Linked DNA regions of Homo sapiens. The protein of the gene in region 1 purifies or fractionates together with the protein of each later gene. This does not show direct contact. Each region holds a gene or a part of one and is shown in the gene's direction. Other genes may lie near its edges.

Region 1 (3,658 bases):
AACTCTTCTCTCCCCTTTCCTCAAGTAGAAAGAAAGATTTTCTCCTGGAGCTGTGAACTGCACTGCCTGTGCCTAGGGTAAGGGTAATAATGCAGGCACTTTCTTGGCCATCCCAGTAGGCATCTCACAAGGTCACATGCACTTCAAGTTTTCTGGCTCTGAGCCTAGCAAAGCACCAGGATTTGCCCAGGAGTTGCAGTCCCAGTGGCTTAGACTGCCTTTCAAGTTTATTTAGAACCCCAGAGTGCTTTAGCCTATGGTGGTGGGGCTACCTGAAACTCAGGTTTTGATTACTGAAATGGACAATTCCTCTCTGACTAGGGCTAGTCTGAGTGCTCCCTCTGTAGGCTCTGGCTGAATTCTGCCCCATGCTGCTTTCTGCTATGACAGGCAGCACTGAGTTTTACTGCACAGTCTCACAATCACCGCACTCTCCCTTCTGTAAGCACATGGATTTTCTCTCTCTGCTGAGCTGCACTCCCAGGGAATGGAGGAGGGCTGCTGTTGGCAATTAACAGCTTTCTTTTTTACCCTCTTCACTGCCTCTTTGATTTGATGCTAAAACTAGGTCCTGTGATCACTCCCCAGAGTTTTTTGCTCTTATGAAGATGCTTCTTATTTGGATAGTCATTCTATTTGGTGTTTTATCTGGGGGATGATTGCTGGAGGGTGCTATTTAGTCATCTTGCTCCACTTCCCTTGCAGCCATGTTGTTTGAATTAAGTGCCACATATGAGGCTAAGGTGAGCCCGGGGTCAATCACGAGCGCTTTCAGATACATTCACGAGAGGTGAGTTTAGCTTTAGTTCCAAATGAAGATCATAGAGACTGCTCTGCTTGGATTTGGTAGAGGCAGGTCAGTGTGGCCCATATTCCCATTGCTGCAGTAGAAATTTCTGGCATCTGTGGCAGAGAAAGGCAACTGAGTGATGGAAAGGGGAAACTCACATTTTGGTTTTTATGTAGGATTTTACTGGTTCTGAACCTCTCTTGTGATAAAGAACAAAGGCAGTCTTTATCTGCAATTCTAGGTCCTTCTGCCTGTGGGTGTGGTGGTTTCAGGGGAGGGAGTTTTGCTCATGCTTCAAAGGCATATTCTCAAGAAACAGGTGTAATTTGTGCAGATAATCACACCTGGGAAGGGATCACAGAGAAGGAGAAAAAGAAAGAAATGGCTTATTCTGAGGTGAATGTGTCTCAGGTCAGAGACTGTCCAACTTTTTCTTCTGAAATATCATGTGTGTAGAACTTGCAAATGTTTACTTCTCTACTGTCGGGGAACCTGCCCCCAGTCTTTCTATTTTCCATAAGTGTCGGCCGGCTGAGAAATAAAGAGAAAGGGTACAAAAAGAGGAATTTTACTAGGCCACCAGGGGTGACATCACATATTGGTAGGACTGTGATACCCACCTGAGTCTCAGACTAGCAAGTTTTTATTAAGGGTTTCAAAAGGGGAGGGGGTGTAAAACAGGGAGTAGGTACAAAGATCACATGCTTCAAAGGGCAAAAAGCAGAACGAAGATCACATGCTTCTGAGGGAACAGGACAAAAGGCAAAACAGAACTGATAAGGGTCTGGGTTCAGCTGTGCACGTATTGTCTTGATAAACATCTTAAACAACAGAAAACAGGTTTCAAGAGCAGAGAACCCATCTGACCACAAATTTACCCGGGCAGAGTTTTTCCCCACCCTAGTAAGCCTGAGGGTACTGCAGGAGACCAGGGTGTATCTCAGTCCTTATCTCAACCACACAAGACAGACACTCCCAGAGCTGCCGTTTATAGACCTCCCCCCAGGAGTGCATTCCTTTCCCAGGGTATTAATATTAATATTCCTTGCTAGGAAAAGAATTTAGCAATATCTCTCCTACTTGCATGCCTGTTTATAGGCTCTCTGCAAGAAGAAAAATATGGCTCTTTTTGCCCGACCCCGCAGGTACTCAGACCTTATGGTTGTCTTCCCTTGTTCCCTAAAAATCACTGTTATTCTGTTCTTCTTCAAGGTGCAATGATTTCATATTGTTTAAACACATGTTTTACAATCAGTTTGTACAGTTAACACAATTATTACAGTGGTCCTGAGGTGACATACATCCTCAGCTTACGAAGATAACAGATTAAGAGATTAAAGTAAAGACAGGCATAAGAAATTACAAAAGTATTATTTGGGAACTGATAAATGTCCAAGAAGTTTTCACAATTCATGTTCCTCTGCCGTGGCTCCAGCTGCTCCCTCCATTCAGGGTCCCTGACTTCCCGCAACACGCTACTTGTGATGTTTTGCCTTATCAGTTTAACTCCTTTTTCACTTTTTATTCTCATGATAGTCAAGGGGCTCTGAGAAATACTTTTTCCTTATATACCAGAGCCTTCTCCTTATTCCCTACGTCCCAGCTTTTAATAAGCCGTGAAAAAATTGTCACCATGAATTTATACCTGCAACATTACAAATGTTTCTTCTGTGGCTGTCGAACATGGAAGGGTGTGGAGACCCAAGATTCCTGTTTGAGATGGGATCAGGTCTTTGGTTATCAGTGAAGAAGGAGACCATGTACTGTTTAGCTTCCATTAAATCTATGCAAAACTGCTTATAAAAATGCACATTTAATGAGAATGGTCTTTATTGCCCAGGATAACTCAGAAAGTTCTGAATAAAAAATAGAAGAGACTTCCTCTCTAGGATGCTAAAGCAAGGAAGTAAAAGAGGACACAAATGGAAAAAAAAAATCCGTGCTCATGGATAGGAAGAATCAATATCATGAAAATGGCAATACTACCCAAAGTAATTTATAGATTCGATGCTATTCCCATCAGGCTACCATTGATTTTCTTCGCAGAATTAGAAAAAATACTTTAAATTTTATATGGAACCAAAAAAGAGCCCATATAGTCAACACAGTCCTAAGCAAAAAGAGCAAAGCTGGAGGCATCACGCTACCTGACTTGAAACTATACTACAAGGCTACAGTAACCAAAACAGCATGGTACTGGTACCAAAACCGGTATATAGACCAATGTAACAGAACAGAGGCCTCAGAAATAACACCACACATATACAACCATCTTATCTTTGACAAACCTGACAAAAATAAGCAATGGGGAATGGATTCCCTATTTAATAAATGGTGCTTGGAAAACTGGCTGGCCATATGCAGAAAACAGAAACTGGACCACCCTCCCTTACACCTTATACAAAAATTAACTCAAGATGGATTAAAGACTTAAATGTAAAACCTAAAACCATGAAAACTCTAGAAGAAAACCTAGGTAATACCATTTAGGACATAGGCATGGGCAAAGACTTCATGACTAAAACACCAAAGGCAATGGCAACAAAAGCCAAAATTGACAAATGGGATCTAATTAAACTAAAGAGCTTCTGCATAGCAAAAGAAACTGTCATCAGTGAACAGGCAGCCTACAGAATGGGAGAAAATTTTTGCAATATATGCATCCGACAAAGGGCAAATACCCAGAATCTACAAGGAACTTAAATAAATTTACAAGAAAAAAGCAATCCCATCAAAAAGTGGGTGAAGGATGTAAACAGACACTTCTCAAAAGAAGATATTTATGCAGCCAACAAACATAAAAAAAAGTTCATCATCACTGGTCATTAGAGGAATGCAAATCAAAACCACAATGAGATACTATCTCAC
Region 2 (3,012 bases), on another chromosome or scaffold:
GAATTGGATCCTGAAACACCTTATAAGTTCAGTCCTGTTGATTAGTATGTTTCCCTGTCCTAGAGTGCATGAACTTTCAAAGCCAGGACACAATCTTGTTCACTTTTCATGCCATCATCTTGACACTCAATACATGTTCAAAGAGTAAATTAAAGAAAAAAGAGATGCTCAAGTCAATTTATAAGTAATCCTCACAAATGCTTGCATACCATCAGTGAACAATTATTTTTTTATCTCCATGCTATAATCTTGCACAAGTTTCATTAGAATTAAATGCACTATCTGAAGTCTATGTTTATTAAATGAGGATTACAGTAGTTGGTTATCTTTGTGAGGGGTTTTGAGGGTTGTGGAACAGGATAACATTTTGAGGTACAAAAAATAATGAAGAGGATATATTCCAATTTCTTTCCTTCCCCAAGGCTTTTCATTACAGCTGTTATAAACCCTGGTAGAATTGATTGGTTTCCTTTTCAGCTTCCTGTTTTGTCCCTCAATGTTCACAAAAGTCCCATCTGATAAATGTATTGTTTAACCTCTCATTGTTTGAAAGAACACCTCTTTGCTCCCCACAGATTACAGACCTATTGGCTTAAGCAGTCCATCTAAATGCATGCCAGTTTCTTTCTTGATAAATTAGAGGCCTATAACCTCAAACCAGTTTATCTGCAAGAGAAGTGTGTGAAGTTAGACTCAATTCTTCCGCTAATGGAACATCGTAATCCTCCTTGTCATCTTTCCTTTGGCCTTCCTGAATAGAAATCATTTATGAGGAAGTTACATGAGCTCAACATGAGCCCCATGTCACTCAGCAAACATTTATTTGAGTACTTACAATGTGCTAGGCTTTGTTCTATGCATTTAAGATAGTGTATTAAATGTATTGACCTCATGAAGATTCTATTCTCGCAGTGGGGAGATAGACAATAAACAATTAATATAAGCAAATGTTAAGTATGTTAGAAGTATGTTAGAAGATGTGCTGTGAAATAAAGAAAAAGGTAGACCAGGGTATGAGGGATTAGGAGTGTGGGGGCAGCAGCAGGAGAGTTTCGGTATTAAATAGGGTGGACAGGGCAGGTCTCTTGGAGAAGATGCCATTGAAGGAGGTGGAAAAAATGTAGCCACTAAATGGGCTGAGGGTAGAGCATATGAACAGAGAGAAAGGCCAGAGGACAGGCTCCAAGGCATGCTTGGCAGGTTCAAGGAACAGCAGGGAGGCTCATGTGGCTGGAATGGAGTGAGCTAGCAGGAGAGAAGATGAAGTTAGAGGGAGAGAGAAAGTGGGGAGCCAGATCATAGAGGGCTTTGCAGGTCACTTGTAAGGACTTTAGCTTTCTAACTTTTGTAAGGACTTCAACTTCTACTCACAGTGAAATTGTGAAATTCCAGAACCAAAAAGAAGATCCTGGTAAAAGAGAAACTTTCAGCAAAATATATTTAACATTTTATTTGAGTGAAGAACAATTCATCCATCAGGCAGCACTGAGAACCAGAAGACATTCAGAGAGCTCTGCTTTGCGAGGTATGCAGTGAACATTCATAGACAGAAAACAAAAATTAAGTACAGAAATAGCTTGATTGGTTACAGATAGGCATTTGCCTTATTTGGACATGGTCTGCTCCAAATAAGGCAAGTTGGCAGCATGCAATTGGCTGTGACCTATCTGTTACAAAAATATATCTATATAATCCTAAATTAGGTTTCAGTTTATTTAAGTACTAAATTAGGTTGCAATTTATTACATGGGAACTCAAAGTCTGGAGACAGCCTCAGGCCAAGGTCCTCTTGCTTATTTAATTTAGCAATCCTAAAATTTTCCAGAGAGGAAACACATCACACACACACACACACACACACACACACACACACACACACACACTACCTACAAAAAAATAACAATTAGAAAGTAATTGGAGCTTGAAGTATTCTAGAAGACTTTGGAGCAAAGCCTTCCAAATTCTGAGAGGAAAATATTTTTAACCTAGGATTCTATTCATACCTACCCAGACTAACAAGTAGCAGGCAGATGATAAATATATTTTTAGGTGGTTAGGTGATGAAACACCTCCTCCAAATGAAGGCATAAACAACAATGCATGGGGATCCAAGAAACAGTGACTCCAACCCAAGAGAGCAGTGAACAAATCCACAGGACAGCAGCTAAGTAGGAGGCCTAAACATCACCTGGGGCAGATGGGGCGAGAGAGCAGAGAGCTTGGGAAAGAAGTCTCTGAGGAGAAAGAATGAGGCAATAAGTCAGATGCGTATTTGCGGACCTCAGAAAAATTTGAGTACATAGGAAACAATAGATGAAGGATAGAAATAATCCATTCAGATTCTCTCCTTTGCATGATGACCACATTAAACTTACAGAGTAAGAAATGTCATTCTAGATTTGATTCTACTGTTTGTCTTTGCAGTGAGCTATGTTTTTTTATAACATGTAGAAGTGAAATAAACTTGTCACAAAAATGCAAATTGTGTCACCAATTTTCAGCTTAACAACATAAAAATAATTATATACACTGACCCAGGTTAAGGACGGGTAGAAGTACGAATGTCCTTATCTTCCAGAGTGAAGTGAGGCTGTAGTCAGGCATTGCAAACTCACATAGTTAAGGGTGTTTTGTAGGTAAAGTACATGACGGTAGTTAGTGCATGCACTATTTTAAAAAGGCAGTAGTTTCTCTGCTCCAAAAGAGTATTGTCATGAAGAAAGAGACCCAGATGTTCCAGTTTACCCAGAATTTACCCCAATCCGGGTTTTTATGTAAAATATTTCAAATGTTCACAACTACTTAAAACATTTAAATATATGAGGGTCAAACAATACCATATCCAGCCTGGGGTTTCCAGTTTGTGACATTGCTACAGCAGATGGATAAGAAAATGAAGTAAGGTGTTTGAATGTATGAAATTAACCAGTATAGATGTTAAACTGGCAGCAGCAGCTCTAGAGTATGGAAGGGCCATCCGGTCAAAGTCAAGGTGAGGGGAATTTTTTTAAA

What was found. The genes of interacting proteins can lie anywhere in the genome.
Region 2: the proteins of ZNF736 (region 1) and DNAJC10 purify together in Homo sapiens (co-immunoprecipitation; one large-scale study listed by IntAct). This does not show direct contact.

The regions. Positions count from the first base shown.
Region 1 is NC_000007.14:64,330,943-64,334,600, forward strand, and holds part of ZNF736 (zinc finger protein 736), read left to right. Parts: intron 1-3,658. UniProt on the Homo sapiens protein: May be involved in transcriptional regulation.
Region 2 is NC_000002.12:182,791,983-182,794,994, forward strand, and holds the end of DNAJC10 (dnaJ homolog subfamily C member 10 isoform 1 precursor), read left to right. Parts: 3' UTR 1-2,482; downstream 2,483-3,012. UniProt on the Homo sapiens protein: Endoplasmic reticulum disulfide reductase involved both in the correct folding of proteins and degradation of misfolded proteins.